4 linked regions of the Homo sapiens genome follow. The protein of the gene in region 1 purifies or fractionates together with the protein of each later gene. This does not show direct contact. Each region holds a gene or a part of one and is shown on either strand. Other genes may lie near its edges.

Region 1 (4,445 bases):
CCTTTAGTTCCGAGACTTGTGATTCCTTTATTTTATGGTGTCTGGAATTAGGTGGCCACTTCTGCTTCCATCCCTTTTGTGCAGCAGATGTTCTTTGGAGTCTGACAAGTTACAAGGAATTTGCAGTCTTTCAAACATTGTAGAACCTCTGGTAGAGGCTGTAAGTTTCCATTTCTTGTCAGATGGCAAGGAATACCATCTAAACGAAGCATAAACCCATTGCCACATTTGCTCATCCAAATGTATTTACCCTTCTTTCAAAGGGTAGGTTTTCTTTGATCTCTGTATAGAAACATGTATAAAGAGAGAAGATAAAAGTGTATCTCACTAGCTTTAGTTGAGCCATAGGATTTTCTTTGGTGGACTCTTAGAGCCATATAATGTTTCTTCTAAGCCATTGGATTAATTCTCAGTTCTCTTCAGTCCCCTAGGTTAAAGAGCAAGTGTACAGGAGGATTGCAGCCTCCCGTTCAGTACGAAGATGTTCATACCAATCCAGACCAGGACTGCTGCCTACTGCAGGTCACCACCCTCAATTTCATCTTTATTCCGATTGTCATGGGAATGATATTTACTCTGGTAAGTGGGGACTCAGGATGTCATTCTCAGCTCCTTTTTTTTTTTTTTTTTCATTCTGAAAGGAGGTGAACCGCAGCTCTTTTTTTTTTTTTTTTTTTTAAGAGACGTGGTCTCACTCTGTCACTCAGGCTGAAGTGCAGTGATGGAATCATCACTCATTGCAACCTCAAAACTCCTGGGCTTAAGCTATCCTCTTGCTTCAGCCTCCCAAGTAGTTAGGACTACAGGTGTGCACCACCACCCCTAGCTAATTTTTATTTTTTGTTGCAATGGGTGTCTCACAGCGTTGCTGAGGCTTGTCTCAGACTCCTAGCCTCAAGCAGTTCTTCCACGTCGGCCTCTCAAGTGCTGAGATTATAAGTGTGAGCCACTGCATTCAGCTTTTTTATAGATTTTTGCTATATCTGAGGTTTGAAGGATATTTGTAAATTTAACCATGAAGGAAGGTATCTTTTTTCAAAAAAAAAGTTTGAACTCAGTCCTGTATATTAGCAACAGACAGATTTGTGGAGACATTAATTATATCTGAGAGTATTTTACCTTGTTTCCTTCTTTGTAGGAAAGGGAATGTTTTTGCATTTTCATGTGTAGTGATGATTAATGATTGAGAAACATTATCCTATTAGGAAGAATGATGAGATATATACATGGGCACTGTATGTCAGGACCTTGAGGCATGCATATGGGGTTACAAATGGGATATTAAAATACAGGGTGACCAGCTCAGCTCTGTCCTTTGTGTGATATTATCACTGTTCAAGGCTTGGCCAGTAATTAGTAAACAACGTATGTGCCTCTGGCATATTTTTCCAGGTTTTAAAAATTTTTCATTGGCTTGGCAACTGGAGAGTTCATGTAATTTGTCTTCTCTGTATCTTAGGCTTACATTCAGAAATACATGAGGTTCCCCTTCCACAATGAAAGTAGCTTTTTTAAAATGGTAAATGACTTCAAATAATACATAAATATACTGACAAAGTAAAGGTGACTTAGACTTCCACTATCCTGTAACTGCAATTAATCTTTTGGGAACTGTTCTCTTAATGTGTCTGTTAATATGTATGTACTCTCTCTCTCTCAAATAATTTTGTATAATTGAGATTGTGTCATATATACAGTTTTGTTTTGTTTTTTTTGAGATGGAGTCTCGCTCTGTAGTCCATGCTGGAGTGCCGTGGTGCGCAGTCTCGGCTCCCTGCAACCTCTGTCTCCTGGTTTCAAGTGATTCTCCTGCCTCCGCTTCCCAAGTAGCTATCTGGGATTACAGGTGCCTGCCACCACACCCAGCTAATTTTTGTATTTTTGGTAGAAATGGGGTTTGCTCAGGCTGGTCTCAAACTCCTAACCTCAGACAATCTGCCTGCCTTAGCCTCCCAAAGTGCTCATTAGGGAGGCTTTCTTTAGCATAGTTTAAACGTGAAGCTGAGAAGGCCTTATAAAATTCTCCTTAATTTTTTATATCTTTAAAGGTTGGCTGGGCGTGGTGGCTCATGCCTGTAATCCCAGCACTTTGGGAGGCCGAGGTGGGCAGATCACTTGAGGTCAGGAGTTTGAGACCAGCCTGGCCAACATGGCAAAACCCTGTCTCTACTAAAAATACAAAAATTAGCCGGTCATGGTGGTGCACGCCTATATTCCTAGCTACTTGGGAGGCTGAGGCACAAGAATCGTTTGATCCCAGGAGGCGGAGGTTGCAGTGAGCCGAGATCACATCACTGCACTACAGCCTGGGCAACAGAACGAGGTCCTTTCTCAAAAAAAAAAAAAAAAGGTGTTTGTTTTATAATTTAGAGATTAATCTTGTGGCCTAGCCAGTATAAATTAGTCTGGACTATTTCATTTCAGAGTGAGCTCTTGGAAACCAAGGTTGTGTAAGTTGGATACTGAATTTGCTTTTCCATTTCAGTTTACTATCAATGTGAGCACGGACATGCGGCATCATCGAGTGAGACTGGTGTTCCAAGATTCCCCTGTCCATGGTGGTCGGAAACTGCGCAGTGAACAGGGTGTGCAAGTCATCCTGGACCCAGTGCACAGCGTTCGGCTCTTTGACTGGTGGCATCCTCAGTACCCATTCTCCCTGAGAGCGTAGTTACTGCTTCCCATCCCTTGGGGGCAGCCTCGAGTGTAGTCCATTAGTAATCAGATTCCAGTTTGGACAGGGTGGCTGGATTGTATATCTCGTTAGTAATGTACATGCTCTTCAGGTTCTAGGGCTCCTGTTAGGGGAGGGAGAAATGTTGAATCAAGAGGGAAAACAACTACTATGATTTATAAACATATTTTAATGTAAAAATTTGCATTTAAAAGGAGTGGCCCTGTTTTCTGTGTTAAAACCCCATTTGGTGCTATTGAGTTTGTTCTTTATTCTTTTATCCCAGTGAAAATTGTTGATCTTGCTGTAGGGAAAAATTAAACTCTTTGAATCTCCAAACAAGGAAGTTTCAGCATTCCCTTATGGATCAGAGGAACCTTAGAGGCCTGAAATTGTTGCTTCCAGTTTAGCTGCCCCTCAAATTCAAGTGAATATTTTCCCTTCTCCCTTTACCCTTCTCCAGAAATAAAGCAGGTGACAGGGTTTTCAGAATCTTACCATATTGACTTGTGTATCTTTTTTAAAAAATAATTTGTGATATTTATTGCATACATTTTCTTTTGGCAGTTTTGGATTTTAGGTATTTTTTTGCATGAGGCTGATAATGGTGATGATGACTTTATACCCTTGGTACTATACTAGGAACTTTACATAGTATCTCTACTTCTCACAGTCTTGCAAAGTAGGTGATATTATTCCCATTTTATAGTTGAGAAAACGGAATTAGTGACTGTACCTATAACACCAGTAAATGCAGAGCCAAGATTCTGACCCAGGTCTTTTTGTTGTACCATAAGTTTAAAAGATGAGTCTCATTTTTCTTGTGGTAGATGGTGGTAAAAAGGAGTAGGCAGAGTGTACATAGATAAAAAAAAGTAAAAGGGTAAGTAAAAAATTGATTGTGGTATATGTTATTCTAATCAGCCAAAAAAGTTTAGAAGATTGATGAAATGATCTTTTAAATATGTATTTCTGAATAAAATGTAAAACCAAGAAAGTTATTTCAGGAAGGATAGTGACCCTTTCCTTGAACTGTTAGAAGGGCATTTATTAGGCTAAAACGTCATTAACAAAATGCATTGCATGTTGAAACCAGCCTCTTGAACCATAAGCACTTAGCGACTTTGCTCTGCCCTGTACTGTGCTGCTTCTGCTGTCATCCTGTGTGCCTACAGAAGCCTGGTCTTCCGTCCATGCAGAAATGCTTATGTCCTCCTGTTGTTTAGATGACTCCTATTGTTCAGGTGTACTCTGAGAAGAGAATCACGTTTTTCTGTTTTGCTAAGGAGAAAACCTTGCTGCTTGTCTCTCCTCCCACCCTCCACCATCCAAAATTAACCAGTGAGCTGGATATTACCTGGATATTGCCAGGAGGTGGGCATTAAGACAGTATTCTTTAAAAGTGAAAATCTTGTGAGGCAAACTGCTAAATTCACATTTTTGTTTTTTTTTTTTTACCATCTTCCCTAGGAATATTCCTAGAAAGCATCTGCTTAATTTTGCTGCTAACAGCTAACCTTATCCCACGTTGAGGGTGGTATTAAAACTGTTCACACAGAGTGAGCCTGGGTCAGTCAAAAACAGAATTTGGGCATTTGAGTGATAACAGACAACCTAAGGACAATGAGCACTTTGCAGATCTCTACAATTAAAAGTTGCCTCTTTGAGGCAGGAGGGGAGAAGCACAGTCCCTGCCAGGTTGCCTGAACTAAAGATGCCATGGAGCAGGAGTGTCTTGGTGCATTGTTCCCCGCTTAGGAGTACCTTTAAA
Region 2 (4,445 bases), on another chromosome or scaffold:
GGATGAGGCCACTGGGCCCCTAGGAGGCTTGGTGGTTAGGAAAAGAGTGAGTCCGGCCGGGCTCCGCACTGTGCCTGGGTGCACAGCAGCTGACGCTGCCGTGAACTTAGCACCCTGGCCCACAGTGTGGCAGGTAGAGATGCCAGTCGGCAGGTTTCAGGGCCCTTTGCCAGCTTGCCCAGACAGTGAAGGGGTGTGGAAGCCAATGTGGCCCCTCAAGGTAGAGCCTCCTCCACAGGCCCAACCTGCTGTCACCTCCTGTGGGGTGATCTGGGCTTGGAGCATCTTCAGACTCCCCATGCGAGCCTGTGAGGTGCAGCCTCCAGGCGCCTGTGCTGCCTACCTGGGGCGCCTCCTGGTACCTTCCATCTTGAACTCGCGGGCTGAAGTGCAGTGGCGCCATCTCGGCTCAGTGCAGTCTCAGCCTCCCAGGTTCAAGCAACTCTTCTGCCTCAGCCTCCCAATATCTGGGAGTACAGGCGTGCACCACCAGACCCAGCAAATTTTTGTATTTTTAGTAGACAGGGGGTTTCACCATGTTAGCCAGGCTGGTCTCAAACCCCTGACCTCAAGTGATCTTCCCGCCTCAGCCTCCCAAAGTGCTAGGATTACAGGTGTGAGCCACCACACCCAGCCATAAAAAAAAAATTTGGCCAGGCGCAGTGGCTCACGCCTGTAATCCCAGCATTTTGGGAGGCCGAGGTGGGCGGATCACGGGGTCAGGAGATCGAGACCATCCTGGCTAACATGGTGAAACCCCATTTCTACTAAAAATACAAAAAATTAGCCAGACATGGTGGCATGCACCTGTAGTCCCAGCTACTCAGGAGGCTGAAACAGGAGAATGGTGTGAACCTGGGAGGCAGAGCTTGCAGTGGGTGACAGAGTGAGACTCTGTCTCAAAAAAAAAAAAAAAAAATTTCACTTTTTAGCAAATCAAATAGAACTATTCTGTAAAAAGAATCATGATCACATGGGATTTGTCCAAAAAATGCAAATTGGCTTGAATTTTTTTTCTTTTGAGGTGGGATCTCACTCTGTTGCCCAGTCTGCAGTGCAGACATGACCTTGGCTCACTGAAGACTTGACCTCCCAGGCTCAAGTGATTCTCCTGCCTCAGCCTCCCGAGTAGCTGGGATTATAGGTGCCCACCACCACACCCAGCTAATTGTTGTATTTTTAGTAGAGATGGGGTTTCACCATGTTGGCCAGGCTGGTCTCGAACTCCTGACCTCAAGTGATCCTCCCACCTCGACCTCCCAAAGTGCTGGGTTTACAGGCTTGAGCCACTGTGCCTGGCCAAAATTTTTAAAATGTAATTTCCATATTAACAGACTAAATTAGAAAAGCTGGGAATGTTTATCTTGGTAGCTGCAGAAAGAGCCTGTGGCAGAACCCAGTATCTGTTCCTGATATGCAGATGTCCTGCACATGCAGGCAGCTTTCTCAGCCCAATCAAAAGCATCTGCAGAAACACCTCCAGCTGCCGTCACCCTCAGTGGTGAGACGCTGATGAGGTTGTCTGTCCTCACTCTGAGCTCAGCATCAGCTTGGGGGTTTCAGTCAGGGCAGTTGAATACAGAAAACAAAACCATATAGATCAGAAAGGAAAAAGGAAAACTCTTTATTCACAAATGGTGTGAACAATCAATTGTGCTTCACTATGGTAATGAGTAGTCAGAGAAGGTTTGAACAGTATGGCACCCCCCAAAATGAACTACTTAGGGATAAATTTGGAAAAAGATATGCAAGTGCTGTCCACGGAGTACTGTAAAATGTTGCTGAGGGAAAGAAAAACCAAACAGAGAGGCTGGGCGCGGGGCCCACACCTGTGATATCAGCACTGTGGGAAGCCGAGGTGGGAGGATCGTCTGAGTCCAGGAGTTTGAGACCAGCCTGGGCAACATAGTGAGACGCCGTCTTTACAAAAAATAAAAAGTTGGACAGATATGTCAGTGTGTGCCTGTAGTCCCAGCTCCTGGGGAGGCTGAGGCAGGAGATTGCTTGAGCTTGGGAGATCAAGCCTGCAGCAAGCCATGATTGCACCACTGCCCTCCAGCCTGGGCAACAGAGTGAGACCCTGTCTCAAAAAACAAGACAAGAAACACACGACCACAGGGGCAAATCTCAAAATAAGTGAGTGAGAGAAGTCAGACAAAAAGAGTGCTTGCTGGATGATCCGTCTATCTAAGATGCTAGAAAGTGCACCCGAGTCTGCAGTGGCAGGACCTGAGGTTGCCTGGGGGTCGGTGGCGGGACCCAGTGGGGGCACAAAGATGCATTTGGAGGTGACTCTTTGACTGTAGTGAAGTTTCACAGTACACGTGTCAATTCATAGATGACGCGCTTTAAACAAATGGGGTTTGGCATATGAGGGCAGACAGTGACTGCGTGCAGCAGCCAGCGCAGCAGTGAACCTGAACCCCGCGGGTCTCTTGTTACCAATGACTGTCCAGTGAGACTCTTGCCCTGGGCTGCCCGTATAATATGAACAGAGCAGCTGGTCACTTGGGAACAGGCCAGTTCTTTCCCTTGGCTCAGGCTTTGTTGTTTGCCCATTTTTATCCCAGGAGGAAGAGATCACGAAGGAGGAAATCGACATCCTCAGCGATGCCTGCTCTAAGCTGCAGGAGCAGAAGAAGTCACTCACCAAGGAGAAGGAGGAGCTGGAGCTGCTGAAGGAGGATGTGCAGGACTACAGCGAGGTGGGTGGGATTTGCTCCCTGGACTCTGAGACTGCAAGAAGAGTAAAATCGCTGTACTGGCCCCAAAAGTATACATAATACTTCCGTCAGATACTTGATAAGCTGGCCAAAGAGTATTTGGAGAGGAAAGCACGTTATAAATAAACCTTATTCAGTAACCTTTCCACAGCCATTCCGGCTGGACCAATCCTCTGTAATGTGGCTGTGTGCCGTTCTGGCCACAGATGTGTGTGCACCTTTTTTTTTTTTTTTTTGTAAGAAGGTCTTGCTCTGTTGCCCAGGCCAGAGTGCAGTGGCACAATTTCAGCTCATTGCAACCTCCACCTCCTGGGTTCAAGCAATTCTTGTGCCTCAGCCTCCCGAGTGGATGAGACTGTAAACATGTGCCACCATGCCCAGCTCAATTTTTTGTATTTTTAGTAGAGACGGGGTTTCACCATGTTGACCAGGCTCATCTCGAACTCCTGGCCCCAGGTGACCGACCTGCCTCGCCCTCTCAAAGTGCTGGGATTACAGGCGTGGCCACCGTGCCTGGCCACATCTTTTAGTTTCTAAACATGGGAAGGTGTCTCATGAAGAGTTTGGTCACTTGACGAGATCTTATTCATGATTACGTGAAAGTGGCTTTTTTCTTTTCTTCCATGGTGGTTTGTTTCCCTTTTTTTGTAAATATTACTTCCTAATAACGATTTTTTTTCTTTCTTTCTTTCTTTTTTTCTTTTTTTGAGACGAAGTCTAGCTCTGTCGCCCAGGCTGGAGTGCAGTGGCGTGATCTCGACTCACTGCAACTTCCGCCTCCTGGGTTCAAATGATTCTTCTGCCTCAGCCTCCTGAGTAGCTGGGACTACAGGCATGTGCCACCATGCCTGGCTAATTTTTTGTATTTTTAGTAGAGACAGGGTTTCACCATGTTGACCAGGCTGGTCTCGAACTCCTGACCTCATGATCCACCCGCCTCAGCCTCCCAAAGTGCTGGGATTACAAACATGAGCCACTGTGCCCGGCCCCTAATACGATTTTTTAAAAACTGTTTTCATAGCTCTGTTGGGAATGATAACTGATTTTTCAATTGGCAAAAATAATTGGCCATTTCTAGATTTATGACAGCCCTCATGCCATGTGGGTTCTCCACTGGATGTGAGGTGCTTATCACCAGCTCAGCCTGTTCCTTCCCTCCCCTCCCCTCGCCTTCCCCATTCTTCCTCATGGTGTTTACTCGTGGGAAAAAAACAACTTGGAATTTAAAAAGACACTTAAGGCTGGGCACTGGTGGCTCAGGCCTGTAATCCCAGCACTTTGGGAGGTCAAGGCAGGAGGATCACTTGAGCTCAGGAGTTTGAGACCGGCCTGGGCAACATGGTGAAACACCATTTCTGCAAAAAATACAAAAATTAGCCAGGCATGATGTTGTGTGCCTGTACTCCCAGCTACTCCAGAGACTGAGGCAGGAGGATTGCTTGGGAGTGGGAGGCTGGGAGTTGGAGGCTGCAGTGAGCTGAGATCATGCCACTTTACTCCAGTCTGGGTGACAGAGCAAGACCCTATCTCAAAAAACAAAGACACTTAATTTCCTTGATTAATTAGTTCACTTAATTTTTCTTTAACAAATGTGAAGGAAATTGAGATTCAGAATAGATTCTATGTCTTTTGCTTGCAAGGCAGTGTACAAAAATAAGAAATTTGTATGATAGAAATACAATTTTATAACTCTCTGGTTTGAATTAATGGGTTTAATTACCT
Region 3 (3,212 bases), on another chromosome or scaffold:
GCAGCTCTTGTGATCGAGAGGTGGAATAGCCTAAGGCAAAACAAACCAACTGAGGTCAAGGCAAAAAAAGTGTGTCTTTAATGACACCCCTGAACCCTGTGTTATGTCAAACAATTTCCTAGGTTACTTAGGCCAATTATATTTGGACACTGTTACCTCTGGCCAAAAGCATCCTAACTTGTATTAGCTATACAACAGAGTACATTAGAACCACAAAAAGTTATGTTACAGAGGTATATTTATGAACAGTAGATGTGCAGTTAAAAAGAATTTACAAAACAGTACGTTTCCATGTTTTTAAAAAAATCAAATATGTCAATATGGATTCATTTGCCAAGAAAAAGGTCTGAAAAGATACTCAAGGTTTTAAGAGTAGTTATCTTTGAAAGATAGCATTTAAATGTTTCCTTTTGCTTATGTGCATTTTCTATTTTTTTCTACAGTTAGCATGTATCACTTTAAGATTCCGCCATCCTTCCTATCAATTCAATGCAATTTAGGAAAGAAAGAGGTAAACATGTATTCCAGTGAGCTATCTTGAACCAGAAGTCTGCTTTTTTTTTTTAATTGGAAAAGTTTCTGTTCTTTAAAAAAACTTTCGTGAAATAAAATTTGATACTAAACAAGCATTTATTTTTCAGTGAATACGGAAGATCACAAACAGTTTTCATTTCCCTTTGTTACTCAGGGAATCATCATGACTTTGTACCATTTCGTATTGGAATTTCTTCTGTGAAGCAAAAACAGTCCCAAAATGAAGGATCTTCAGGTGTCATGGGAACGGCAGATGACATTAAATCATTAAAGTTGAGAATAGTAAATTGCCTCTGGGTTGGTTTGGAATCATCCTGAGATGGAACCTAAAAGACAAAAGCAGATTACCTTATTGTTATATTGCATGTTAATCTTATGATCAATTTCATAATCATGAAAATAAGTAAGACCAACTTACATTTCAGTAGTATTAAATGACAACATAGGATTCCTAGAACATTGTTTGTATTTCTTATATTAGTGTTGCCAATACAACAAATCAAAAAAAAATGAAATAGAAAACCTGATTCTTGAACTTTTTTATATAACAAAAACCTGTGGTATTTTACATGTAGATTTACTGGGCCCCACATCCAAAAAGTGTGATTTACTACATATCAGTTAGAAGGGATATCAAAATCTGTAATTTTAACGAGCAGTCAGGTTATTTTGATAGAGGTGAGTGAGAAAGTGAACTTTTGTGAAATACTACTCTAAAAGGTGGGTCTGATAAAACTGCCATAACTATACAGAGATGTATACTTCTTTAGGAAATTATTTATTCAATATTAAATTTAAACTGTATCTTACTCTCTGAGATAGAGCCCTTGTTCACAATTGAACCCAGTGCAGACCCTCTTTAATATTCTACACATCTAGTATAAATAGTACTTGGGTTTTGTATAGCGCTTTAACAAGTCAAGGTCCAGTACTTATATGACTGGTCTCATAGCTATGTTGTGATACGGTTATCTTAATTTTATGGATGGGGAATCTGAGGCTCAGGAAGAGCAAACAATTCAAACAATTTGTCCAAGCTCAAAACATAGGTTAAATGGTAGATGTGGGCCTAGAACCCAATTTTGTGAATTGTACTCTAGTCTTCCCAACATGCCACTGTTGCCTAAACAGGCTCTGTCCAGGGAAATGAAAAGTACTGAATATGCAAATGTTTCAACAATTATAAAGCTCTATGAAAACAAAAGGTATTTTTGCAGGGAGTGTGAAGCTGAGATTTAAAAACAGAAGGACGAGTAACCTGGGTCAGAACATCTTCAGATAACAGGTGTCAATTTTAACATGCCATCCCTTTTTAAGGAAGATAATCTATGGAGAACTCGTAATCCTTTGATTAATCTATCAAAGGTTTGGTGTGTTGCCTGAGCTACTTTTGTGGAAGTAACGATGCATATATATTGATCATGCTACATTCTTTCATGTTGATTTACTAAAAATAATGGAATGCATGTAGTTTTCATTAAAACATACGTTTTCCTTAAATAAATACTTCTGCAGAATCACAATTATATGAAATCTAAGAGTCTTTGACCCTAAGTTCTTCCCCCACTTGCTTACCAGGTAATAGGATAAGAAAGTATAAAAACATTGTGGCTGAATAATTGAAACTGATGTTATGCCACAATATGACACAAGGTCTCTTACATGTTTGACACTGTAACTTTGGGAATAATTCAGGATATTACTTTAAAAGGAGGAGTGGATTCAATTTGCAAGGTAATTCCATTACTCATCAACCTTCAACGTGGTACTCTTACATTCAACACAACCCCAATTCACCAAGAAATAAACTACTGTTAAGATGACTAAGATAATCTTGAATGTCTATTGGAAATATGAGTAGCATGATAGTACTACCATATTTTTTTTTGTTGTAATACTTAAGCGTATACGAATGTGAAGAAGCGGGTAACATTTCTTTTTTTTGAGACGGAGTTTCGCTTGTTTCCCAGGCTGGAGTGCAATGGTGCGATCTTGGTGCACTGCAACCTCCACCTCCCAGGTTCAAGCGATTCTCCTGTCTCAGACCTCCTGAGTAGCTGGGATTACAGGCGCCCGCCACCACACCTGGCTAATTTTGTATTTTTAGTAGAGATGGGGTTTCTCCATGTTGGTCAGGCTGGTCTGGAACTCCTGACCTCAGGTGATCCGCCTGCCTCAGCCTCCCAAGGTGCTGGGATTACAGGTGTGAGCCACCATGCCCAGCTGCTTTTTAAAAATGTTTCTACAAAATCCCTAGTGATCTTAATATTTGCTAATAAAGAGTACTACTATATCTATAATCTTAAAAAAATCTCTCTAAACTGATATAAGGCAAATGACTATTTCCATCAATAAAGAGCAAACTTAACATTGATTCATGCTATTTAGAAAAAAGAGAAATCCTAAAATCTTACATCCTGATGTCTAGATCCATCGGGTTTCCTAAGAGCAACTGCAACAAAATGGTGCTCATCTATTTTGCTTTCCTGAAAGATAAAAGGTAAATAAATATAGATTATAAAATATGTAAACCTAGATGTAACTTTGTTTACATTTTCTAAATCTCATTCTCTCTCTCTCTATATATATATACATATACGTACACTCACACGCGTGCATATATATATTTCCCCACCTCCGCTAAACTACTTTAGAAGTTACATATGTGCTGGCCCTTT
Region 4 (4,445 bases), on another chromosome or scaffold:
GTTCAGTCCTTCCAGGATGGACTGGCTTGATGGTGGCTTTTCAAGCTCGTTCTGTTCCCAGCCACTGGGCATCCTGTCCATCCTGGAGGAGGAATGCATGTTCCCCAAGGCCTCAGACGCCAGCTTCCGGGCCAAGCTCTACGACAACCACGCGGGGAAGTCACCCAATTTCCAGCAGCCTCGGCCTGACAAGAAGCGCAAGTACCAGGCCCACTTCGAGGTGGTCCACTACGCAGGCGTGGTAGGTGCTTGCTGGAACCCCAGCCCTCGGCCAGGCTCCTCCCGCCCTGCTCCAGGTCTCCCACCCGGGCTCAGCACCTGACTTGTCTCTCCAGGTGCCTTACAGCATTGTGGGCTGGCTGGAGAAAAACAAGGATCCCCTGAATGAGACCGTGGTCCCCATCTTCCAGAAGTCACAGAATAGGCTCCTGGCGACTCTCTATGAGAATTATGCGGGCTCCTGCTCCAGTGAGTATGGAGGGACAAGATCTCCACTCTGACAGGGGCCCACAGAGCGACATTCCCTGGAGTGACCAGGCCCCTTGTCTCTATTAGCTGAGCCCCCCAAGTCTGGGGTGAAAGAGAAGCGTAAGAAGGCAGCATCGTTCCAGACGGTGTCCCAGCTGCACAAGGTAAGGCCCCATCTGGGAGACAGACCCTCCCTCTTGGCAGCCTCCAGCCCCGTCCTTCACCCCCTGCCCTGTCCCCTGTGCCTTGGGCGGGCGGCTGTTAAGACTTGCAGTGATGTTTAACTCCTCTCCACGTGAACATCACAGCAAGTCTGTGCTGCTTCCCGTCCCTACGCTGCCTGGGCAGGGTTTGTGGGGAAGGGGTGGGAGCCCTGGGGCTCTGGGAGGGACGGGGATTTGGCAGGGAAGTGAAGACTTTGGTGGTGGTGATGGGAGACAGCGAAGGGTCTCCCATCACCAGAATGAGAGTGAAAGAGCAAAAGTGCAGGGCACTTAGGGCCCTGCTCCCGTCTCGGTCCTGACCACTGCGGCATCCAATTCTGGTTCTCTGCCCCCTTTGTGCCTTTCCCTCACTCTTCCCCACTGCCAGGAGAACCTCAACAAGCTGATGACCAACCTGCGGGCCACACAGCCCCACTTCGTCCGCTGCATTGTCCCCAACGAGAACAAAACCCCAGGTAGTCACCCAGGGCTGGCCTGGCTGGGGCCGGGAGGCATCATGGGAAGGTGACAGGGCAGAGGCCGGGAGGCTGAGTACATCTTCCCCCTCACCTCGCAGGGTCTCCACTGCTGCTTTTTCTCTGGGGCCTGCGGGTGTGCCTGTTGACCTCTGACCTTTTCCCCTCTCACGTCCAGGGGTCATGGATGCCTTCTTGGTGCTACACCAGCTGCGCTGCAATGGGGTCCTGGAGGGGATCCGGATCTGCCGCCAAGGGTTCCCCAACAGGTTGCTCTACACCGACTTCCGGCAGCGGTGGGTGACCCCTTCCCCCTGCCTGCTGCTCCAGGTGGAGGCCTGAGGGGCTGGGCAGGACACACATATCAGAGCCCAACAGACGGTCCCCTGTCTGGAGGGGGAAGCAGGGACTGTGAGGGGCCTGGCCAGGTATCCCAGCAAGACATGGGGGTGGCTCAGACCTGGCCGGGGACTTGGGGAGAAGTGAATAGGCTTGGGGCAAATAGTGGAGGTGGAGCCTACAGGCCTCGCTGATAAGCTGGACATGGAATTCTGGATGCAGAAAAGACGAATGATTTCTAGTTTTGGGAGTGAGCAACCTGGGAGCTACCAGTGGTAGATTTACTGAGCTACAAAAACAGGGTTTTTTGATTTGGAGGAGAGGTGAAGGGATACTGGTTTGAGCTCTGTTTTGCGTGTATCAGGTTTGAAATGCCTCCAGCAGACATCCTAGAAAAGTCATGGGGGAGATTGGGATTATCAATCTGGAGCTCAGGGCAGCGGGCAGAAAGGATGCAGATTTGGGAGTTGAACGAGAATCATGTGGACGAGGCTTCATGAGACACCTGGCACATAGCAAGCACCTGGGCAGTGCTGCCAGCTCCTCCCCGTTCCCTCAATGGGCAACAAGCATCCATCGTTCCTTCTCCCTCCAGAAGTCATGGTGTCATCCACACTATCCTTTGTAAACAGAGGTTCACACAGATACCATACACGCACACACACGCATGGTGCTGTGACCTTGTTTTTTCTAACAGTCTGGCCTGGAGATCGTTCCTTATCCCCAGGCGTATGCCTGCCATCGTCATCCGTTTTTCTTGGCTGTGAAACATCTCACAGTCTGGTGGACTGCATGCTTTGTTTAATGAGTCCCCCTCATGAGGGGCCTTCACAGCGTGGCTGTAGCCCACCTGACCCACACAGCCCTGTGCATGTGTCCACTTAGAAGTGGGCAGGCTGGGAGCCCTGGCTCTTTTGCATTAGAATTTCCCCCCAAATGGGCTGGGCGCGGTGGCTAACGCCTGTAATCCCAGCACTTTGGGAGGCCGAGGCAGGCGGATCACGAGGTCAGGAGATCGAGACCATCCTGGCTAACACGGTGAAACCCCATCTCTACTAAAAATATAAAAAAATTAGCCGGGCGTGGTGGCGGGAGCCTGTAGTCCCAGCTACTCGGGAGGCTGAGGCAGGAGAATGGCCTGAACCCGGGAGGCAGAGCTTGCAGTGAGCAGAGATCGTGCCACTGCACTCCAGCCTGGGCGACAGAGCGAGACTCCGTCTCAAAAAAAAAAAAAAAAAAGAATTTTCCCCCAAATGTTTCTTCAGTGATAGGGTACAGCATGTCACCTTCTACTAATATTTTTTGCCTTTAAAAAAATTTTAAAAATAGTGCATGCCTTCTGTAAAAAGCCTCTTTAAAAACTTAATGAATGCATTTAAAATCCCCCCAAGGTTGTGTTTTTTTTTTTTTTTTTGAGACGGAGTCTTGCTCTGTCACCCAGGCTGGAGTGCAGTGGCAGGATCTTGGCTCACTGCAACCTCTGCCTTCTGAGGTTCAAGCGATTCTGCAATTCTTCTGCCTCAGCCTCCCGAGTAGCTGGGATTACAGGCGCCCGCCACCATGCCCCACTAATTTTTGTGTTTTTAGTAGAGATAGGGTTTCACCATGTTGCCCACGCTGGTCTTGAACTCCTGGGCTCAAGCAATCCACCCGCCTTGGCTTCCCAAAGTGTTGTGATTATGGGCGTGAGCCACCGCACCCAGCCAACCCCCCAGGGATTTTAAGTGGAGTGTCCCTAGTGTCCCAGTGTGGTGACGCATCCCTGGCCCCCTTGTTTGGCATGTGCCCTGCTGGAACCTCTGCACCAGCCTCGGAGAGGCCCAGGAACGAGTCCCCTGCTACCCACACGAGCCTCCTCAGTCCCTGACTTCCCCATTCTCAGTGGCCTGTGCCCCATACCCAGCCCTCTCCTGACCAGCTCTGCCCTCCTTTCCCAGGTACCGTATCCTGAACCCCAGTGCCATCCCGGATGACACCTTCATGGACAGCAGGAAGGCCACAGAGAAACTGCTGGGCTCGCTGGACTTGGATCACACCCAGTACCAGTTTGGCCACACCAAGGTCGGGGCACTGTGGGATCAGGGCTGGCCATGGCTGTGGCGGTCACACTGGGCAGGGTTCATGCGGATGGTTGGGGGTTACCCTGGCTGTCTACCTCTCCGCCCCCAGGTGTTCTTCAAGGCTGGGCTTCTAGGCGTCCTGGAAGAGCTCCGTGACCAGCGCCTGGCCAAGGTGCTGACGCTGCTGCAGGCGCGGAGCCGTGGCCGCCTCATGCGCCTTGAGTACCAGCGCCTGCTGGGAGGCAGGTGGGTGTGGGAAGGAGGCTGGGGACAGGGTGTGTCCCCTGCCTCTCAGCTCCCAGACCCACTGGCTCTCCCAACCCTAACATGCTGCCCTGTAGTCAGATCAGCCCCTGTGGCTGGTTGGGGCAAGGTTCTGTTCTGTGTCCCCCAGCCTCCATTTCCCCACCTCAAAAAACGGGGTACGGCACTTGCCTCTCCATTTCAGGACATCAGCGTGTGGCCCGGAGGGGTAGCGATGGCACCCAGTGTCTTCCAAGACTCTTGCGGGCCGGGCCCCAGGCAAGATACTTTCTCTGCATTATCCTGGTTAAAGCGCTGACGGTCCTGAGAAACAGGCGCTGTGATGGCCTCCACTCAGCAGAAGGGTGCCCGTGTCAGAGATCCAGAGCTAGCTGGCACGTCAGCCCAGGCCGCTGACTCCAGAGCCCCGTGGCTTAACAGCCCTGGTGTCTTCCGGGAATTGCAGAGGCCACCAGGACATGGGGGGCTCATGAGCCCCTTCACTGGAGGCAGGCCTGTGGGACTGTGGGCCTCCCCTCACCCTCACCTATAAAGCAGAGCTATTAGGAGCTACTCCATGAGGCTGCTGGGAAGGCAAAACAAGTGAACTGTGCTGAGTGTCACCATTTGTGACGGGCAGCACTGAGCCACCTTCA

What was found.
Region 2: the proteins of TMEM183A (region 1) and LETM1 purify together in Homo sapiens (affinity purification with mass spectrometry; one large-scale study listed by BioGRID and IntAct). This does not show direct contact.
Region 3: the proteins of TMEM183A (region 1) and AASDHPPT purify together in Homo sapiens (affinity purification with mass spectrometry; one large-scale study listed by BioGRID and IntAct). This does not show direct contact.
Region 4: the proteins of TMEM183A (region 1) and MYH7B purify together in Homo sapiens (affinity purification with mass spectrometry; one large-scale study listed by BioGRID and IntAct). This does not show direct contact.

What each region holds. Positions count from the first base shown.
Region 1 is NC_000001.11:203,020,370-203,024,814, forward strand, and holds part of TMEM183A (transmembrane protein 183A), read left to right. Parts: intron 1-423; coding exon 424-579; intron 580-2,485; coding exon 2,486-2,671; 3' UTR 2,672-4,445.
Region 2 is NC_000004.12:1,817,598-1,822,042, reverse strand, and holds part of LETM1 (mitochondrial proton/calcium exchanger protein precursor), read left to right. Parts: intron 1-2,570; coding exon 2,571-2,705; intron 2,706-4,445. UniProt on the Homo sapiens protein: Plays an important role in maintenance of mitochondrial morphology and in mediating either calcium or potassium/proton antiport. Mediates proton-dependent calcium efflux from mitochondrion.
Region 3 is NC_000011.10:106,094,391-106,097,602, reverse strand, and holds part of AASDHPPT (L-aminoadipate-semialdehyde dehydrogenase-phosphopantetheinyl transferase), read right to left. Parts: intron 3,021-3,212; coding exon 2,949-3,020; intron 861-2,948; coding exon 696-860; 3' UTR 1-695. UniProt on the Homo sapiens protein: Catalyzes the post-translational modification of target proteins by phosphopantetheine.
Region 4 is NC_000020.11:34,989,679-34,994,123, forward strand, and holds part of MYH7B (myosin-7B), read left to right. Parts: intron 1-45; coding exon of another isoform or gene 46-61; coding exon 62-241; intron 242-335; coding exon 336-468; intron 469-555; coding exon 556-632; intron 633-697; exon of another isoform or gene 698-819; intron 820-1,059; coding exon 1,060-1,147; intron 1,148-1,325; coding exon 1,326-1,443; intron 1,444-3,423; coding exon 3,424-3,547; coding exon of another isoform or gene 3,548-3,655; coding exon 3,656-3,792; intron 3,793-4,445.